Linked DNA regions of Homo sapiens. The protein of the gene in region 3 interacts with the protein of the main gene of each other region in a pairwise test. Each region holds a gene or a part of one and is shown on either strand. Other genes may lie near its edges.

Region 1 (7,029 bases), on a different chromosome or scaffold from region 3:
TTTTTTTTTTTTTGAGACAGAGTCTCGCTCCGTCACCCAGGCTGGAGTGCAGTGGCATGATCTCGGCTCACTGATGCCTCAGCCTCCCGGGCTCAAGCAACTGTCCCACCTCAGCCTCCCGGGTAGCTGCAACTACAAGCACAGACCACCACACCTGGCTAATTTTTGTATTTTTAGTAGAGACAGGGTTTCACCATGTTACCCAGGCTGGTCTTGATCTCCTGGCCTCAAGAGATCCAGCTCCCTCAGCCTCCCAAAGTGCTGGGATTACAGGCATGAGCCTCTTCACCTGGCCAAAAAAATTTTAAACAAGATATAATAACTCTCATTTACAGAGTATTTGTGTGTCAGATACTATTCTAGCTACTTTTAACTCATCCTCACAACAATTGTATGCGGGGATCACTCTTGTTATTATATCCCTTACACACATGAAGAAACTGAGGAACAGAGAGCTTAAGACACTTATCTAGGGTCCTCCAGCTAGGAAGGAGCAGTATTAGGTTTCAAACCCTTTTAATTCTAAACCTATGATCCTAACTACTCCAGCACATTGGCAAGAAAGAGATGAAGGGAGCGAATGGAGGCTGGCAGGTGGATAGAAGCAGATGTCCAATGAAAAACTGTTGTACTCCGTTTCTCTACTGCCCCACAACCTGACTTCCACTCCACTATTCAATCAAGCATTGGTGCTAAGAGCACTGGAAGCCTCCTTATCACTTTACACACATCCTCCTGGATTCTTTCTATAGCACTTCTCACTACTGCACACCATCTAAAGGAGGCACCCTTTCTTCTGGTGGCTCTCTCCATCTTCCTGGCCCCTTCATCTACTCCCGTTCTCCCTCGCTCCCTAAGTGGAGACATTCTTTTCTCTGCCTTTTCTTCTCAGTGCCCCTCTCTTCATGCTTCATCTCTTAACAATCCTAAGCCCTTCCACAAGCTTCCTTTATACTGAGGTTGATGATGAGTGCTAATTTATACTTCTTTCCCAACCTAAATGCTCTTCCACCTACTAGACATTTCTATAAGCATGTCCTTCTATCTTCTAACAAAAAGAATGCTGATGATCCCGCTTATATGTGGAATTTAGGGGAGAAAATGTTGATTACATAGAAACAGAGTGTAACAGTGACTACCGGGGTGAGGAGAGGGAGGAGGGAGATGTAGGTCAAAGGGTACAAACTCACAGTTATGTAGGATGAATTTGTCTAGAGATGGAATGTGCAGCAGGAGTACTAGGGATAAACAACATAATAATACTGTGTTGTTTATTGACTATTTGCTAAGAGACTAGATTTCAGGTGCCCTTACCACAAAAAGGAGGGGTAATTATGGAAGACAATAAATATGTAAATTTGCTTACCTGTAATAATCATTTCACTATGTATATGTATATCAAAATATCATGTTGTATACCTTAAGTATAAACTAATGCTGAGCCTATTCTTTTGTTCTCAAAATGATCCTGCAGACTGTCCTAATTCTACACAACAGTCCACCATTCTCCTGGTCCCAAGGCTAAAACTTTACAGCTATCTTCACATTCTCCCTCCTCCTCATCCCCTACTTCCATTTAGTTACCAAGCCCTATTGAATCATCCTCTACAAGAACTTCCAAATCTTTCCATTGTCATGGCTCCTGTTTCCATTACCAATAATCATTGCCAACACAATAACCACTCTGCCATTATGCATTCAGTTCATTGTGCACACTGCTACCAGCAGACTCTCCCAAGGCGTGACTGAACCATACTATACTACCCAGAAGTCCATTACTATTTGTCTTACTAAATGATAATTATAGGTGAAAATGTTCTAGCTTCTCAAGAACAGAGAATGTTTTCTGATCTGTATGTTACATGGTAGACTTGTGCTGGTAGAATCAGTGGGTTGTTGTCTCTCCTTCTCAGAGATCCTCAATATAAACTTCAATATAAACTTATCCAAAATAATAAGGTTGAAACTCTCTAGCCTAGGCATTTAGGGCCTATAAAACCTGATCTCTAGTGGGTTTTTTTTTTTTTTCTTATCCCACATCTCTTTTCTCTTATTCTAGTAACAGCATCCCACTTTCCTTTGGGGAACTGTCCCTACCCAACTGGTGGACTGCCCATCAAAGGTCAACATCTCCCTTTGAGGGAGGACATGTGACCCAAGCTCACCCATCAAAATACTGCTACCCTCCTAGACAAAGTGATTGGCCCACATGTGGGGATACGACCCCAGTCAACGATCAGGAGTCTTTTTCAGGTGTTAATTTCAATACTGGATAAGAAAGGTACTAAGCAGCATATGAACTTTGCTGCTTACTAGAAAGCACCTTCTGAGGGAAAAGGAGAAACAGCTGACATTAGCACTACCTCTGGCTTTTCAGCTGGACAGGCCCACAATCATTTTTTTGAAACTCTTGGATTTAAATATGTTTCAGAACTCAGAATTATTCAGGTGAGAATAGCACAATGAGGCACATACTTGAGTATATTACATACACCTCTGTCTGGATCAAGGACAACATCACTGCAATCAAATTCAATTCATATTTCTGCAATGAAACAAACTAAGGGCCTAATTAATGTCAGTTTAGGTCAGGGTAGGTTTTGCCATGAAGAAAGTGCAGATCAGGTAAGGTCTGATTACAAAAAGTGTTCAGCTGTTTTCAGAAAGGCATATAAAGGCATGTGAATCTGTTTAAACTAACAAATTCCCAGTACGCTTATCTGCTTGTTTGTTAGTTTTAAGCAGTTTGGGGTTGATTTTTGACACTTGTACCTGAAAAAGGTCCCATCTATATTCCTCATGGGCCTATTATGTGTCAGTTTTACTTCCCACTAGTCTTCTATACAGACTCACACTGGAGTCAAACTAAAAGACTAAGTTTTGATACTTTAAATAGAAAATCTTGCCTCGTCCCAGTGGCTCACACCTGTAATCCCTTAGGAACACCAAGGCAGGTGGATCACTTGAGATCAGGAGTTGGAGACAAGCCTGGTAACATGGTGAAACCCCGTCTCTACTAAAAATACAAAAATTAGCCAGGTGTGGTGGTGCTTGCCTGTAATCCCAGTTCCTAGGGAGGCTGAGGCAGGAGAATCACTTGTGCCTAGGAGGCAGCGGTTGCAGCGAGCTGAGATTGTGCCACTGCACTCCAGCCTGGGCCAAAAAGCAAGACTCCGTTTCGGGAAAAAAAAAAAAAAAAAAAGAAAAGAAAGAAAATCTTGCAACCTCCATAGAGTATATGTCTTATAAACAAGGGCTGTCCAACAGGAGATGGGAGCCTTAGCTGGCTGGTTTTCTTGTCAGTTGCCCCCTCCCCTGTCCTGTCTCCATGGCTCTTGGGGGAAAAGTGTAGCTATCACATCATCCTATGGGAGAATCAGGCACAACACTTATTCCTCTTCCTTTCAGCCCCCATTATATCCCCAGGGACAATCACAAGAATCTGGAAAATTACTGTATGTTGTTATTCTCTTCTGAGTGCCTGTGCATCTCTTAGGTGTCTTTAAAGATCATATAATGCTCCCTATGCCTTATTTTAGCTAATACACACTCATCTTCACTATTAGGTCACCTGATTTTCACAGCAACTCTATGAGGTGGATGGAGTAGGTATTATGGCTCCCTATCTGAAAAATGAGGAACTGAGGGTCAGGTTGGTTGATAAAAGTAAAGACCCTGGAATTTCACTCAAACCTGACTCTTAGTCTTGTTTTCTTTCCGATCTAATTTTACTCTCAGGATGAACTCAAATTGGAGAGTTTATTGGTATTGATTGTTCCTCCTTGGTACCCTTTGATGTAGAGATGGATAATCTGTTGAAACTAGTGAGAACACTCATGAGTAATTTTACTCTAAACTATGTGCAAACTTTATTCTGGTAAAAATAAAAATTGACATATATATGCTGTGCATATGTACATATATTACACACATACATATCTGTGTATATATCATATATAAGTATATGTGTATATATGTGTGTGTGTGTGTATTCTAGCATGCATTAATGTCTATAAGCATTTATTTTTACCAGCCAGGAAGCTAAAGTCAGCTTTTCTGTCATTGATCACAACCTGAATTAAATGAATAAAAAAGTCCCAATGCAGAGCAATGCCTGGAGATACTTCAGCCTTGGTAAAAACCAGACACTGCTTCACATAACTTGAACCGACAACAAAAATATCCCTCCCTGCCCAGGGGATATTTCTGGGTCAGGACTCCCTCTCTCAGCCAAAGAGTCAGACATTGCTGAAAATTTTCTCACTGTACTACCCTGTTTCTCTGGCTGACCTTTAAGGTTAGGACCTCTGGATGTAAGCCCATGAAAGACAGTGATAAGGCAAAGTCAGCTGCCTTTAGGCTCACAAAAATGCAGTTTTTCACTTCAAATAGACCCCGAAATCCCCAATGACCACATACAAACCATTCCTTATCTATGAGGTTAATGCAGCAGACACGCCATCACCAGACCATGCACTCTGAATTGTTTTTTCCAGCAAAGGTTCCCCTACTATCCCTTCATTTGCCTCATCATAAGAAATATGCATATGAGAGTGGCTAGCAGGGGTCAGGGCTGAGGATCTTGAGCATGAAGAGTTGCCCTGTGCAAAGCCAGATATATCACACAGAGACCAATCTGGGACTACAGCACCAACTAACTCTCCTGTTTATAAAATGCCTAAGAATTTATTAGGCAAGCACAATCCACTCCCATACAACCCATCAGACTAACCACATCCCCTATTTCCAGGACTATCCATAAGCACCCAGAATTCACTGCCCATGTGAATCAACATTTCAAGCGTCCTATAATATCCACAGCTCAAAATTAATCAGCAGGGTGGGAGGTGTTCAGGACATCTCTGAACAAAGTTCTCCCTGCGAATGTATCTCTTCCTACCTACTTGGAAAATGCTTCTTCTAGCTTTACTCATACAAACTACACTCAGAATAAAAAATAAAATGTAAATGCGAATATGATTTAACAAAATTTTTCAGGTTATTTTTCCTCCCTTTTGTCCATCCGCAGTATGCTTATCCTGTAACATTTCATGGCCTATGACTAGGATGAATGAGGGAAGAGGGCCCTGCCATGGGAAATCAATCCTAATTGTTTAGAATCTAACATAAAACTATTTTTAAACTATTAATATTTTAAATTACTCACTGAAAGGGAAAATCATTTTCCCTGCCTACAAAGCTATGATATGGTTCTTACAATTCAATCTTCAAAAATATATTTTCCTGATCTTCACATTTCGCATCTCCATTTTTAAAATGTCTTCCTTTCTCCTTATCTAAAACTTTGGATCTCAATTATTTTGACCTTTCTCCTCAGATTCAGATTAAACAAACCTTTCGCTGCAAGCCTAACTATGTGCTGAGCAATGCATAGTTAACTCACTCTATTATCTAGAGATTTATCATTTTACAGATGAAGGAACAGAGGCTCCATTAAGTTCAGTGACTTTCCTGCTTTCACAGCCTCGAAAGTGGCCTCTCCAGAGTTTCCAAGTCCACATGCTGTCAATGGGGGGGCTCTAGGTAAAATATTTTTCCAGTATGGCTTGCATTTAGTTTTATCCTTCAGAGGTGTTATTCAAATTGTTATGTGGTTTGGGGAAGGGGCTTTGCTACTGGTAATCTCAGGCTGGAATCAAGGATTATAAGCAACTCACAGAAGGATAAATACAGCTATTGCACATTGTAAACAATCTGTTTGTTCACAAGGGATCTTCTCCCTGAATTCAAATAACCAGACATTAATTCTTCTTTGTAGATTTACTCTAAATGGAGGTCCACAATTAACAACATGTCAGGTCTTATTCCTTTATATCATTTCAATTGCCTAACCAGTAGATTGTTAGCTCAAAGGGTCAGAGCACATGATTAGTGAGGGAGGACAAAGGCTTCTCCCTCTATTCCCGTGCAGGTCAATAGGCATGCACACCTCCTACCCTCGGCCAGCTCAGAAGGTGCTGGTTCCACTAGATACTAAGAGGGCTGGTAGTCAGAACTTGTAGGGAAGAAAAGCAGGGCATTCTGCAGCTGACTCCGATACCAACCAAAAGATAATATATGCTAACATGACAACAACTAACAATGATTATGGTTAAGTATTATTATTGCAGGATTTCAAGGCACAACCATTCACAAAATATAAACATTTTGTGAAAACATATGCTAGCTCTATGAACAAAGGCAAGAAAACCTTCATTTATGTTCCCTTCTGGAAATCAAGCACGTCCTTTTTGCTTGTTTGTTTGCTTTCTTCTTGTGTTACTCTGCACATCCCATCTTTTTTTTAACAGAAGAGGCACAGCTATTATTTTCCATAGAAATGCCCTGGCCAGAAATCTTACCTCTCGTGACTTTCAAATGCTAAGATGCTACACAAAACATTACATTGATATTCTGAGCAAATGGTCAAAACTATACCTTTACTGTGGTGAAAATTTACTACCTTACTCACCTAGAATATCATACCGAAGATATAAAAAATACTACCAGGATAGTAAATGACTGCAGAAATAATAACAAGTTTCAGTTCCAATTTGCAACACGTAAGATGAGACCCCAAGCCCAAATGGGTAAAAAACAGAACATTCCAGACGCATCTGCAAATTAGTTACTGCCCTCAGCTGATCCACAGCTGGTTTACTGATGGAAAGAATAACAAAAGGATGTCTAAAGTGTTGAAAGGTCAGAGCAGTAAAGGATGAATAAGAAATACATTTGGCCTGTACAGTGCAATGATATTGCACGTGTGAACTCCATTTACCACCCCAAAGACTTAGCATAGGCTTAAGCTCCTTTGATCTACAGAGGAAATGCTCTCCACTGTAGAATAGCTGATCTTTTTACACTGGTTCAAGGGGTCCTCTGTAACCTCTATAAGCACTAAATTTCCTCATTGGCGCTGTAAAACCACAATAAATCATCCTTGGTGTTATTTGTATGTAAACTTTCTTAGCATTATTATTTTTAATGAGAAGCCATGAATCTTCACTATAAGGCCTTTTGTAAATA
Region 2 (7,029 bases), on a different chromosome or scaffold from region 3:
GATCCCTGGGATTCAAGGCCGGGAATGGAGACAGGAAAGCAAAAGCCTTTGAGGGAGGTGGAGTATGGTGGACAAGAGGGACCAGATTCATAGCTTCCGCTGCGGTCGGGGAAGCTGTCAGGAGAGGGCAGTGCAGAGCTTCCTTGCCTTCTCTCCCTAGCTCTGCCTTACAACCGGCCGCACACAAGGTGAGTGTGCTGAAATTGGCTCTTCCTCCCCAGACAGGGCAGCTGAGCTCACGCAGGACGCACATCTACCTTGTCCCCTTCCCTGGGTAGTCAGGTGTATACTGAGGCCTCCAAATTTTGTCTGGCCTCTGGTCCCATGAAAAGAGCAAAGGATTGCCACAGCAACCACAGAAAGAGAATTGTGCACCAGGGTTACGGTAGGTAATAAGATTTACTGAAAACGTCTCGGCCACATTCAGTACTGGTTTGGTGGATACATCAGAAGGAGGTTGCATAACATTAGGCAGGTGGAGGGGCTGAGAGGAAGAGATGTGGGCACCTGTGTGCCAGTGTGTCCGTGCTGGGGGACGCCTGTCCAGGTGGTGAGTGGAACGGTGTGTGTGTGTGTCTGTGTGCGCGTGTTAACAAGAAAAACGAACCAGAAAAGGAAATGCATTTTATCCCACTGCACATTGCAAAAGTCTCACGCCAAAAAAGCTAGACTTTCCTCTATGTATGGCATCAAAAGGGAGTAAAAAATGATTGGATCACCCAGATTATAAATAAGGTTATTTGTTTCTCAAAAATCCTTATTAAAACATTAAATATCAGCTCTTTTGGGGGAGAAATACATTCATTTCAGGGAGACCTCGGAAGAGTGACCATCCTTTTGCTCTACCCCAACCAGGTGGGGGAGGGGAAGCCCCAGAGGGCCCAAGGGGTCCCCTCCAGTTGAGCCAGGTAGCCACTCACATCCTGCCACTGAAGGAGGTGGCCAATGCACAATTTACAAATGAAACTGCACGTCCATTAAATTAAACCCAATGGAAAACACACGTGTGACCTGTCCTGTCATTCACAGCCATGGGGTGAGAGGGAACCGGAGGAGAGGGTGCCAACCAAGGGGGTCTGGAAGGTGGGTGGGAGGGTATGTGTTAGGGTGGACAGTGGAGAGCCTCCTCCTCCTTCCAGGAGCCCCAGTTCCTCCAGGGCTGTGGATAGCAGGGTTAGAACAGCTGGGTGGGGTGTGTGGGATGGGCATCCCCGCAGGCTCTTGGGTGCCATTCTCTGGGCCCTCCCCCACATTTAGGATATTGATGGGAAGAGGGATGTAGCACCTTCTCCAACCCCTGGCTTCCCACTGGACTAGATGCTTTCCAATGTTTCTTCTGCCTTCCCTGAAGGACAGAATGAAGAAAGGAAGCTGGAGGCTGATGGAGCCAGGCTGGGAGCAAAGGGATGGCCGTGGCGACCTGCGGGCTGGAAAGATTCCCAGATAACCTGGTTTCACCTTCTCTGAAGGTCTATGGAGGGCGTGGAGCACTGAAGGTGGGAACATCTAGGGTAAAAAACCATTGTCCTGTTGTTAAAGGAGCTAAGTTCTGTGATCACCTAGGGACAGCTGTGGCCTCAAAGTCACCTCCATATGGTTCCTAGCCCAGGGTCTGCCATCTCCTTGGCTCTTGGAGTCAACCCAGAAGGGACTCCTCTTAACCTCCCACAGGTTGAGCCCACCAGCTTACAGTTGGTTTCCAGGAGAGAGTGAAGGGCACTGTGGCTCCCATCCCTTTCTCCCATGTCCATGGTTGCTGTGCGCAGAGACAGGGCCTTGGAGGGATGAGCTGGAGCCTGGTGGATTCCATCCCATTCTGATCTGCAAGATGTGATGCCTCAGGCCCTCCCACTCCTCTGGCCACTGGTTATGCTTTGGGGCTCCCTCCTGCCCTTGAATGTCTGTCAAAGGAGCTGAGAAACTTCTGGGGATGAAACTCAGTCCCCCTTTGTCTCTCCCCTTCCTTCTAAGTCTGCCCCCGGGCAAAGGCCTACTCTGCGAACAGCACCAATCTGCCTCAGTGCAGGGCTTGTAAACAACTCAAGTCCTTCCGTGGGTGGGGGCCATGGGTGCCATCTATCCTCAGGGATTTGGTGAGTCCAGATCTCACTCCTGTCTTTCCACACAGGCTGCTCGACTGGCCCCGCCAAACAGAGTCCTCGGCAGTTCCAGGGAAGTGGGGCTGGGGTCCTCATTGAAGCTCGGTGGTTGGGAAGGAACAGGTGTCTCCTTTGCCTTTCTTCAAGCTACTGATTTGGGGAAGCTAGGGCCCAACTCCCTCGGTGCTTCCTGCCCATGTCCCCTTCCCCCCCACCCTGAAGGCCTCCCGGCGACACTCCTCTCCTGCTCAGTGATCAGTGCCATCTGGGCTGCCCGACTACTCCAGGGAGTCACTGTGTTCCAAGCCCAGGTCGCTGACATTTGTCGTCTGCAGCTCGTCGACCTCCTCCTCCAGCTCCTCCTCCTCCTCCTCTTCCATCTCATCCTCATCCTCTTCTTCTGTCCCATCCAATGAGTCATCGTGTGCAGCCATCATAGCCTGCTGCATGGCCATGGTGGCACTGTCTGAGGACAGGGACTGCAGGTTGTCCAAGTTGATGGAACCTGCGAGAGAAAGCAAGGGTCAGGACGAGGCAGGGGCTGCTGGTCAGGGCCAGCACCTCTGTGTTGGACAGGGTTTAATGGACTGGCTCATAGAGCAGTGAACTCCTTGTTTTTAGAGCTGTCCAAGCCTGAGCTGGACAATGCCCTGGTATGAAGTCTCCCATCCATTCACTAGTCAGCTACTCCCTGCCCCATCTCAGGAAGCAGCACTCCCAGCCACCGTTCACTGCACATTTTCTTTATGTGTTGGCCACTTTTGACTTTCTAACAATTCTGTAAGGCAGGTATTATTATCCCCATTCTGTCTCAGACAGTTAAGTCATTAGCTCAAGATGACATTGTCAGCGATGACAGAGTTGGAATTTTCTCCCAGGCTGGTCCAGCCCCCTAAATCTGTTTTTTTTTTTCCCATCATAACCCATAAGATGGCTCATCACAAAGGAACCTGTGCACAACCATACACATACACGTGTGCATGAGGTTATGTGTGCACACACGCACACCTACGCTCCACTCCCCATACAGAGCTATCTTCATATGCCAAGCTATAAAATGCTTGGCTCATTGAATTATTCATTGTGCACTAGGCGACTGGCAATTAGAAAAGTGTATATGGAGGGTGTGATGGAGAGGCTGGGAAAACAGAGCTCTTCCTGGCCCCTGTTCACGAGCCAGCTGCCTGCCTTGATATTTATAGATGGCCTTGGCTCCTGAAGAGCTGTGCAGATACTTACTGGTGCTAAGGAACTCAGATGGGTGCGGACATGGGGGGCTCTGCTGAGCAGTCACTGACTTGCGTGACCACCAACTCCCGCTTTTCTTTATGAGAGTGCATCTGGTCTGTTAAATTATGTACAAAAACATCCCCTTCTTTAGGGCTTTGGGGAGGGATAATCACTGTGGCATGGCAGCGATGGGAGCCCAGGTAAGGAGATAGCCCTTGAATCTTTGCACGGCTTGACCTGAAGAAGCTCCAGGAGCACCCCCAGCCCTTGTCTAGGGTGCACTCAGCCCCAGTTCTTACCATCGGGGTTTGTCCCTGGGGCACCGCCCTGCTGCTGCAGCACCCCCGCAGCGATGGAGTTGGGCCAGAATCTTTGGGTGGGCCGGTGCTGAGACTTGATCTTCTTGGCTTTGGGGGCAGGATCTGGGTTGCTGGCATCAAGCATGGGCTGCAGGATGCGCCTCCGGGCATTGATGAACCTGCCCAGAGGTAAAGTGGAGACCTGGTTAGTCATCACCTGCATGGCCTTGGGGTGGGGGCAGGGAGGGTGAAGCTGCCTTCAGACTCCATTTCACAGAGCAGACCGGGGTTCCCATCCCGGATGTAAAAGCCCAGCAAGGAGGAGGGCCCTGGGTGCTGAGAAGTTCATGAAATTTCCTGGGGCTTGGTAACTGCAAAGTCATATGGGAAGAATGCATGGGGGGTCAGAAATCCCTGCTCAAGACCTTCCAGGTTGAACGGAGGAGGAGAGCATGGTAGTCATAGGCACTAACCTCTGACTTCTCTCCAGAGAGCCAAGGGCTCGGATCAGGGCCCTCAGCTCTGGGGTCTACTTCCATCCAGCCAGACCTTGCTCTCTGAGCTCCCCTGACAGCCCAGCCAGGCACAGAGACTGGGAAAGCTGAGATCCCTGTGGGGTCAGAATGGCTACTCCTCCTCCCTCTCCCCACTCCCAGCTTTGCAGCTAGTTTTAGTCTCAGTTCACATGGGGGTGGGGAAGACCAGATGACCACTGGCCTCCGGTGCACAGCTGCGGGCAATCCTGTCTGTCTCTGAAGTGCAGGTGGGCTGGGTGCTCAGGTGGGCGTGGGTTTTCTCTTCCTCAAGAAGCTTCCAGGGATGTGCCTGACACAATGTCCCAGCAGAGGGCGCTGAGAAGCTGCAGATGAAGCCACAGGTGCCAGTGTTGATTCTTGCTTTCTGCTTCTAGCCTAAATGGGGGGACTGGCATGGTAGCTGGGCTGAGATTGAGGCAGATCCTGGCATTCGAGTCTCTTTTCCCTGCTACGCATTCCCCTGCCCAGAAGGTGGCCCCTGGATCTGGGAGCCTGCATGCAGGTGATGCAAACTCACCAGTTGTTTACTTGCAGGAGGGTGAGGTTGGTCTGGGCTGCGATCTGCCTCTTCTCATCCTCCGTGGGGTAGGGGTGCTGAAACGAGAGGTGGAGACTAGTGAGGGCTGGGCATATGCTGATCTGGCCCCCCCAAGGGACTGTGCCCACGCCATGGGCACTATCCTGAGCCAGGCAGCCCGAGTGGTTTGGGAACCAAAATTGGGGAAGTGTCATGTTTGCTCCCCACAGAGAATGGACCTAGGGCTTGGAGGAAGGTTGCCCCATGCCCGAGACTCCACATCCCGGGCTGGCCAGTCCTCAGCCAAGCCCCCACAATGGGGAGCCAGGGAGGTTTCCCAAGACCAAGATGGTTCAGTACTGACAGCTTCCAAGGCACATCCTTCTCACTTGATCCTCACTGCCGCCCCCAGCAGGCAGGGCAGGCATTGTCAGTGTTAGGGTTTCCAATGGCCTCAAACGCCCATAGAAGGTGGTAGGCGGGGTGAATGGATCAATTTAAGTTAACTGCTATTTACTGAATATCTACTATGTGCCCAGATTTATGCTAGGCATGGCTAGGAGACAGAAGAGTACTACTTGTATAGTGCTTTATAACCTGTAAAATGCTTTCATGCATTTTATTCATTAAAAAATCATCATTTTATTTAATAAAGCACATCATTGAAACTCTGAAAGGCAGGCAGGTTAGGTATTGTTATTCCCACTTTGCAGATGAAGAGATGGAATGACTCCTCCAGTGTCCCCCAGATGGTAGCACCAGCTCAGGTCTTCCGATTTGGGTCCAGTCTTTCTTCCATTGCTTCATGATGCCACTTTATAGGACTGAGTGGAGGTGAGAAAGAGAGCAGGGCAGGTGTCTCTCTCAGTCCCCCACATGCTGCAGCCCGTGCACTGACTACGCATCTGTCTCCCTCTCTCAGACTGTGCTTCATGACGGCACTGGGATACTGAATGTATCCCCAGTGCCTTCCACATACAAATGACATACAAATGCCTGCTGAGTGAAGGAAAGCAAAAGCACAGCACTCAATGCTGTGGTTTGGGTGATGAGCCCTGTAGAGGCTAAGAAGGAGAGAAATGCAGTGGTGGGGAAGACTGAACAGGTCACATTAAAGAATGAGAAGGCTCTGGGTGGCAGTGGGAAGAGAGTCGTGACCCCATTGGGAGGGAGGCCACAGGATGGCTGAGTCTATGCATCCCTAGGACTTGTTCAGGCCACAGCCCTGTGCCTGGCACCCAGCATGCAATTAAGGTGTGGCGAACGTCTGAATAAGTCAGAGTTTTGTCCTGGAAGCTAGGGGAGGTTTGGGGGCTCTTATGGCAGAAGATCAAGCCATCCAGCATCCTCAGGCTAAAATCATTCCTTTTGATTGGAGTGGTATTAGAAAGTGGTGCTTGAGCTGTCTAAGGTCCCCGAGATGGGAGGTCTCAAAATCTGGCTCTATTATGACTAGCTATGAAATCTCAGGCACGTCACCTAACTACACATCAGCAAGTCATCTGACAAATAAATGAAATTATACTTGTAAAATGCTCAATAAAAGGTACGAATACTCTTATTATCAGGGGGTGTTACAAGGTGCTTAGAACTTTCTGAGGGAAAAGGCTGCGGTCAGCAGCCTTGGTGGTACTCGCATTATCGGTGGAAAAGGAGGAGCAGCCTCTCCCCTACCTCAGCATCCCCCAGATGAAGCCATCAGGACCATGTGTTGCTTTAATTCAAACCTCTGACCCTGACCACCATGCCAAGGCAGCTGGGACTTGTGATTCATACGGTATTAAGATTCTAACAAGAAAGTAGGCACATCAGCATTACAGGAGCCAATTTTCATTCTAATTGGGAAGGAGCGGAGGCAGGATGGGAGGAGAGGGTGCAGATGGCCCCAGGGGGCAGAGAGGCAAGGACTCTGGGAGCTCTGACACCTTCTGGGGTCAAGCCCTAGTGCCTGGCTCCAACCTCCCTATTTGTGGGAAAGAGCCAAGCAGCCTCCCTGTCCATAGCCAGCTGGTCTGTAGACAAAAAGCAGCAAAAATATGGTGATTTTTTGGCCTTCCCAGGTGCAAGGGCCTTTCATGCCTCCATGCCTTCGCACGTGCTGGCCCTCCTCTGGAGCGCGCTTCCTCCTGCCTGTCCTCGCGTGCCTTTCTGAGCTTCTGTGAGGGCCTGCCACAGATCACAGCCTCTGCAAGGCCCTTCCCGACTCCCTGAGGCAAAGCTGGTCACCGTGGCCTCTGAATGATTGCTTTTCGCCCACTAGATGGCAAGACATGTGTCCCCCACTAGGCCATGAGCTTCTCTCAGGCAGGGACCCCATCTCATTAGACATTGTTTATTTCCAGTGTGCA
Region 3 (7,029 bases):
CTAATAGAGACACTGCTGCTGCCAGAAGAAACAGAAGGAGTGCAGGAAGACCCACTGGGCTCCAGGTAATCTGTTCTCACAAACCACTCAGCCCAGGTTAAGACACAACTCTACGGCCTTTCACCATGGGGGCCAGTTTTGAAGGCAGGAAAAACTGGTAAGAGATCGTTGGAAAGGATGGAAGAAATTGCAGAGAAAAATAAAATTATTTCATAATTCTCCTTTATTAGGCACAGGTAAACATACATACTCATGGTATCCAAAACCTAGAGTATGGACCTGGGATTGTGGACCCCAAGTGTCCCCAGAAGAGTCCCACCTGGGACTTTCCAGGTGGCCACAGGACAGACCCTGCCTAATCCTGTCCCTCAACCTTGGTGCTCAGGTCAGAAGCCCCATGGTTGACAGGCCTGGACCCTCATTCCAGAACAGTCTTGAGTTAGACAAGAACTAGCCTCATAGTTTGGATTCTTATCTCTGGCCCAAATCCCAGGCTTAGGCCTGGAAGGAGAATCTCTTAATCAAGAGGACAGAGATGCTGGGAACACAGTTCCCAGAGTGAGCTGGGCTTGGGTCCTGAGTTGCAGGGGAGAGGCCTGGAGCCTTTGGCACAGGGATACCTCCCTTTCTCTGAAAAGGTACAAGATACAAAGGCAGCTGGTTTGTTTGTGAAAGGGATTGTCCTTGGACAGAGGTGCCTGAGCACCAGCATCAGTGGAGGCCGACACTGGTACAAAGTGTACCCAGTGTAGACAGTGACCTATGGTCATGGAAAAGTGTTGTCAGCTCAAGGATGCCAGTTTGTCATCTCTGTGAGCAGGGAATATTGTCTCCTTTGCTCACTGCTGTACTCCCAGCACCGAGAACAGGGCTTGGCACCTGATAAGCACCCAAGCAGGAACTGCATGTGTGTGGAACAAAGCAGATGTGTACACAGCACACTCCACACAGGCTTCTGCCTTTCTCCCTTCTGGAAGGCACTGAAGGTTTGGCTCAGTTCAGAGGCAGGAGAAGGCTTGGAGCTACCCCCAAACTCAATCCACTGTTGGCAGCTGAGCGTGTAGTAGGGTGGTCCTAGCCATACAGAACCACTTCTCTGTCTCCCTCCTCTTCCCTGGCTTCGTCCAGCCCCAGTCCATCAGGGACCACCTGGGCAGCCTCCCAGAGATGGGATCGGGTTGGGGCTAAGGGCATCGGGTCCTGTCGCAGCCAGGGGTGCAGGAGGATGCCTGTGGCTGTGAGCCGTTCAGCTGGCTCCCGACGAAGGAGGCAGCGAACCAGACAGCGGGCAGGGGCCGAGAGGCCTGCAGGCAAGGCGTAGGCCCCGCGGCGGATCTTGCCGAAGAGCAGGACAGGCTCCGAGTCCTGGAAGGGGTAGTGGCCGGCCAGCATGGTGAAGAGCGCCACGCCCAGGCTCCAGACATCGGCTGCCTTGCCCGAGTATGAGGCCCGTGAGCTGAGTATCTCAGGTCCCACGTAGGCTGGGCACGCGTGCTTGTCCCACAGGGAATCATCTGGCCCAGTCAGCACGCAGGAGTCCTCCAGGTTCTCCAGCACCAGCTTCTTCCTGGGACATGGGGAGAAACAGAAGGGTCAGGTCCTACCCAGAACCCCCATGCCACCACCCCATGCTATCACCCTTGTGGCACCCACTTTCCAAGTGCCTGCTGGCCTTTGACAGACACAAGCCAGTCCTGTGATGTCTGATCCTGTTTTACAGATACCCAAGCCCAGGCTCAGAGAGGTTAAGTCATTTAAGGCCACAGAGCAATTAAATTTAAACTAAAATTCTGAAAGGAATACATTTTTCAACAGAGTCCCTTGGGGAGGGGGCTGATGGGGCTGAGAGGGTTAAGCCTCTCTTAAACCAGCTACAAACTTAGGGTCCAGGCAGGTAATAAGATGAGAGAAACAGGAAGTGTGCCTGACATCTCAGCACAAGCGCTACCTAAAAAGGGTACACAACGCATTCTAGGGTTTACCAAGTGCCTGCTGTGTTCCTGGCCCTTGACCCAGCTCATTACCTGGCTCACCTCATTCTATCTAGGCTACAGCCTGCAAGGAAGACACCATTTTACAGCTGTAGAGCATGGGCCTGGGATGGGAACGCTGGCTGGCAGATACTCAGAGCCAGTGCTGTGACCCACCCTCGCAGTTCCCAAGATGGCCCCACATTCCCATTGTTTTCCCCAAGAGAAGCCAGGAATTGTATTTTAATGAAAAGGTCCCCATTTAAAAAATATTGGCAACCAGTTTATATAAAAAACACAAACAGGTAAGCAGGGCAAAAAAAAAAGTGTGTAAGGCTGGGCGCGGTGGCTCATGCCGGTAATCCTAGCACTTTGGGAGGCCGAGGTAGGGGGATCACTTGAGTTCAGGAGTTCAAGACCAGCCTGGGCAACACGGTAAAAACCTATCTCTACAAAAAATACGAAAATTAGCAGGCATGGTGATTCGCACCTGTAGTCCCAGCTACTTGGGAGGCTGAGGCAGAAGGATATGACTTGAGCCCAGGAGGTGGCGGTTGCAGTGAGCTGAGATCGCGCCACTGCACTCCGGCCTGGGTGACAGAGTGAGACCCTGTCTCAAAAAAAAAAAAAAAGTGTGTCCTGCCATTTGCAATTTCTACTTTAAACAACTTCCACTGAGCACTCAAAGATGACTTTAATAGTAATCATTCTATTACCACTGCTATTAGTTTCTTCTTTATGGCATTACTTCCTGGGTGTCCAGTGGCATTTCACAAATACTGACCAATCCTATGAATCACAGTATTGGGGGACAAGGGGTGTCAGCATTATTAGCCCATTTTACAGATGAAGAAACAAAGGCTCAGGCAGGTGAAGTCATTTGCTCAGGGCCAAAAAGCAGGTAAGAAGCAGAACCCAGGATTTAAACACAGGTCTATCTAACTCACGGTCCCTCTTCTACCAATGACTCTCATGTGATTTTTCTTTTTTTTTTTCTTTTTTTTCTTTAGAGATAGGGTCTCACTCTGCCACCCAGGCTGGAGTGCAGTGGTGCAATCCTAGTTCACTGCAGCCTCAAACTTCTGGGCTCAAGCAATCCTCCTGCCTCAGCCTCCCAAGTAGCTGGGATCACAGGTGTGCATCACCACACCTGGCTAATTTTTATAAATTTTTTGTACAGATGGGGTTTTCTGTGTTGCCTAGGCTGGCCTCGAACTCCTGGGCTCAAGCAGTCCTCCTACTTTGGCTTCCCGAAGCACTGGGATAACAGGTGTGGGCCATCAAGTGACTTCTTGAAAAGAGCAGGAAGCACGCTGTCTCCTCCAGGAGGTCCGGGGTAGTTGTATCTACCCTAAGCCTAAAATGTGTTTGAAGTTATGTACTAGCTTAAACATCATTATAAATGTTACTTCTTTAAAAAAGGCATGCTTGTTCTAATATAAAATGTAGAAGGAAATATTAACAGAAAATCAGCCTTGGGGGCTGGGCGCAGCGGCCCATGCCTATAATCCCAGCACTTTGGGAGGCCAAGGCAGGCGGATTTCGAGACCAGCCTGGCCAACATGGCAAAACCCCATCTCTACTAAAAATACAAAAATTAGCCAAGTGTGGTGGTGTGTGCCTGTAATCCCAGCTGCTCAAGAGGCTGAGGCACGAGAATCACTTGAACCCGGGAGGTGGAGGTTGCAGTGAGCCGAGATCGTGCCACTGCACTCCAACCTGGGCAACAGAGCGAGACTCTGTCTCAAAAAAAAAAAAAAAAGAAAGAAAGAAAAAAAAGAAAAAGAAAATTAGACTTAGGCAAGCACCACAATAATAACTGCTATAGGCAAGATGGATGGCTGCTAAAATTAGTGGGTGAAAGTTGAGGAAAAACAGGATATTTATATGCCTAGCTTACCTCCCCCAAGGTATTTGTCAATTACAAAGGGTAAATTAGGACCTTACAGTAGAGAAACCTGGTAGGTCCTGCCCTAACCAAGTGATCAAGGTCACGACATAGGAATGACTATCAGCTCAAGTATCTCTTGATATGATGTGGAGAGGGGCCTATCGATTCTGTGTTGTTCTTGCCAAAAATACATAACTGCAATCTAACTGTGAGAAAACATCAATCAAATCCAAATTGAGGGACATACAAAGTAACTGATCAGTACTCTTCAAAAGTCTCAAGGTTATGGCCAGGAGCAGTGGCTCACGCCTATAATCCCAGGATTTTGGGAGGCTGAGGCAGGCAGATTGCTTGAGCTCAGGAGTCTGAGACCAGCCTGGGCAACATAGCAAGACCCCATCTCAATTAGCCAGGTGGGGTGGCACACACCTGTAGAACCAACTACTCAGGAGGCTGAGGTGGGAGGATCACTTGAGCCCGGGAGGTTGAGGCTGCAGTGAGCTGTGATCACACCACTGCACTCCAGCCTGGGTGACAGAGTGAGACCCTGTCTCAAAAAAAAAAAAGTGTCAAGGTCATGGGTCTTCAAAGACAGGGAAAGACTGAGGAACTGTCTCAGATTGGAAGAGACCAAGGAAACCACTGATGACTAAATTGGGATCCTCACTGGATCCTGCACAGCAAGGGGTGTTAGTGGGAAACTCGGGAAGTGGGAATCAATCTGTGGCTTAGTTAATAGTTTGGGTAATTGTACCATAGCTACGTCAGGTGTTAACATTGGAGAGCACTGGTTAAAGGATATGCAGAAACTCTTTGAACTATTTTTGTAGGTTTTCTAAAAGTCTAAAATTATTTCAAGATAAAAAGTTTTTTAAAATGCCATGGGGTCACACTCCTTTCTCCACAGAAAACTCCTGTGTAACTGGCAGCTTAGTGCACTCCCTGACACATCTTGACTGCCCCCAGGAATCTGGAGAGGGAACAGGAGGCGAGTCTCTCTGCCCTTCTCCCCAGAATTATCTTTTAAAAATTTTTCTTAGCGTCTAGGCTGGGTGCAGTACCTCACACCTGTAATCCCAGCACTTTGGGAGGCCGAGGCAGGCGGATCACCTAAGGTCAAGAGTTCAAGACCAGCCTGGCCAACATGGCAAAACCCCGTTTCTACTAAACATAGAAAAAATGAGCCAGGCATGGTGGCGCATGCCTGTAGTCCCAGCTATTCGGGAGGCTGAGGCAGGCGTATCACTTGAACCCAGGCAGCAGAGGTTGCAGTGAGCCAAGATCGCGCCATTGCATTCCAGCCTGGGTGACAGAGTGAGACTCTGTCTCAATTAAAAAAAAAAAAATTCTTAGCATCCCAACCTAGAGAAGGAAGATTCTTTTAACCAAAAAGTGCTAATTCTCAGTTTCACAGAAAACGTTCCCGTGTGGGGAACCTCAGACCCTATTTTGGCTGTGGTCTTGGAATCCTGAAAACACCCTAACAATCCAGCCCTTTTCCTTACCAACGGAGAAACTGAGGCTCAGAGACACTAGGTCACCCAAAGTCAGTTGGTAAGCCCAGCCAGGCCCCTGCCTCTCAAGCTCAGATTGAATTAAGACCCAGGCTCTGGAGTCAGATCTAGGTTCAAATCCCAGCTCTACCATTTATTCTGCTATGGGATCTTGGGCAAGTTACTTGAGCTCTCTGGGCCTCAGTTTCCTTGATCATATGGGGATAATAACAGTACCTGCCTCGTGTTTGTAAGGATGGAAGACCACGTTAGATAATGTGGCGATGCTTTCGTCACTGTCGGCTACTATGACTTTCACATCTCAGTGCTCCATCCCAGAATCCCAAGGGGCTCCCAAGAGGACTGAGTCAACTCTTTTTTTTTTTTTTGAGATGGAATCTCACTCTGTTGCCGAGGCTGGAGTGCAGTGGCGTGATCTTGGCTCACTGCAACTTCCGCCTCCCAGGTTCAAGCAGTTCTCCTGCCTCAGCCTTCAGAGTAGCTGGGATTACAGGTGTGCGCCACCACACTAGGCTAATTTTTGTATTTTTAGTAGAGACGGAGTTTCACCATGTTGGCCAGGCTGGTCTCGAACTCCTGACTTCAAGTGATTCACCCACCTCGGCCTCCCAAAGTGCTGGGATTAAAGGCGTGAGCCACTGCACCTGGCCTGAGTCAACTCTTCTCAGGGAACTAAACAGGGGCTGCTGGTTACTTCAGTTTCTCCCACTTCTTGCCTAAGTTACCTTGCCTTCCTGGGCCTCGGTTTCTCTCCATCATGGCCCACCCCCTGGGTGTGTCTGTGGCTGGGGTCTCTGAGACCACACTCACCTCTCACGGTCAGCGAAGACAAAGCGACACAGCTTGAGATCACGCAGGACCAGACCGTGCTGGTGACAGTGCGCCAGGGCGGTGGCCATCTGGCGGAAGAGCACGGCAGCCTCAGGCTCAGGGATACGGTGGCGGCTTCGCACCAGGCTGTGCATGTCCCCATGGGTCCGAGTGAAAAAGGCGTAGAGGAGCTGGGTACCAGCCAGGACCTCAGTGGGCCGAGCCACATGCTTGTGCGGGGGCAGCCGCGCATAGGGCTCCAGCACGGCCAGGGCTTCCTGGACGGGGTACACCTGTGGGCAGAGCATGGTGTTAGCACAGCTGGGGACTCCCGGGAGCTGAGGCTGGCATTGCAAACAGTCACAGCTGACCTATTAGACACTACCATGTGCTAGGCATCGCACCAAGCGCTTCACTGACCGAGTCACTCAGCCCTGACCATGGTCCTATAAGGTAGGATGACTTGCTCCATTTTACGGTTAACGAAGCTGAGAGGCCACACAGCCAGCAAACAGCACGGCTGAGATTTGCACGTATGCACTCCACTGTCTGTGCTTTTTTTTTTTTTTTTTTTTTTTGAGACGGAGTCTCGCTCTGTCACCCAGGCTGGAGCACACTGGCGCAATCTCAGCTCACTGCAAACTCCGCCTCCTGGATTCAAGTGATTCTCCCGCTTCAGCCCCCAGTGTAGCTGGGATTACAGGCATGTGCCACCGCACCTAGCTAATTTTTGTATTTTTAGTAGAGATGGGGTTTCATCATGTTGGCTAAGCTGGTCTCGAACTCCTGACCTCAGGTGATCCTCCCGCCTCAGCCTTCCAAAGGGCTGGGATTACAGGTGTGA

The links. The genes of interacting proteins can lie anywhere in the genome.
Region 1: the proteins of TRIB3 (region 3) and PCSK5 interact in binary tests that used the Homo sapiens proteins (3 or more experiments, as listed by UniProt).
Region 2: the proteins of TRIB3 (region 3) and PKNOX2 interact in binary tests that used the Homo sapiens proteins (3 or more experiments, as listed by UniProt).

The regions. Positions count from the first base shown.
Region 1 is NC_000009.12:75,893,663-75,900,691, reverse strand, and holds part of PCSK5 (proprotein convertase subtilisin/kexin type 5 isoform 3 precursor), read right to left. Parts: intron 1-7,029. UniProt on the Homo sapiens protein: Serine endoprotease that processes various proproteins by cleavage at paired basic amino acids, recognizing the RXXX[KR]R consensus motif. Likely functions in the constitutive and regulated secretory pathways.
Region 2 is NC_000011.10:125,426,741-125,433,769, reverse strand, and holds the end of PKNOX2 (homeobox protein PKNOX2), read right to left. Parts: intron 4,759-7,029; coding exon 4,682-4,758; intron 3,808-4,681; coding exon 3,629-3,807; intron 2,605-3,628; coding exon 2,378-2,604; 3' UTR 381-2,377; downstream 1-380.
Region 3 is NC_000020.11:390,736-397,764, reverse strand, and holds the end of TRIB3 (tribbles homolog 3), read right to left. Parts: intron 6,479-7,029; coding exon 6,186-6,478; intron 1,568-6,185; coding exon 1,075-1,567; 3' UTR 206-1,074; downstream 1-205. UniProt on the Homo sapiens protein: Inactive protein kinase which acts as a regulator of the integrated stress response (ISR), a process for adaptation to various stress. Inhibits the transcriptional activity of DDIT3/CHOP and is involved in DDIT3/CHOP-dependent cell death during ER stress.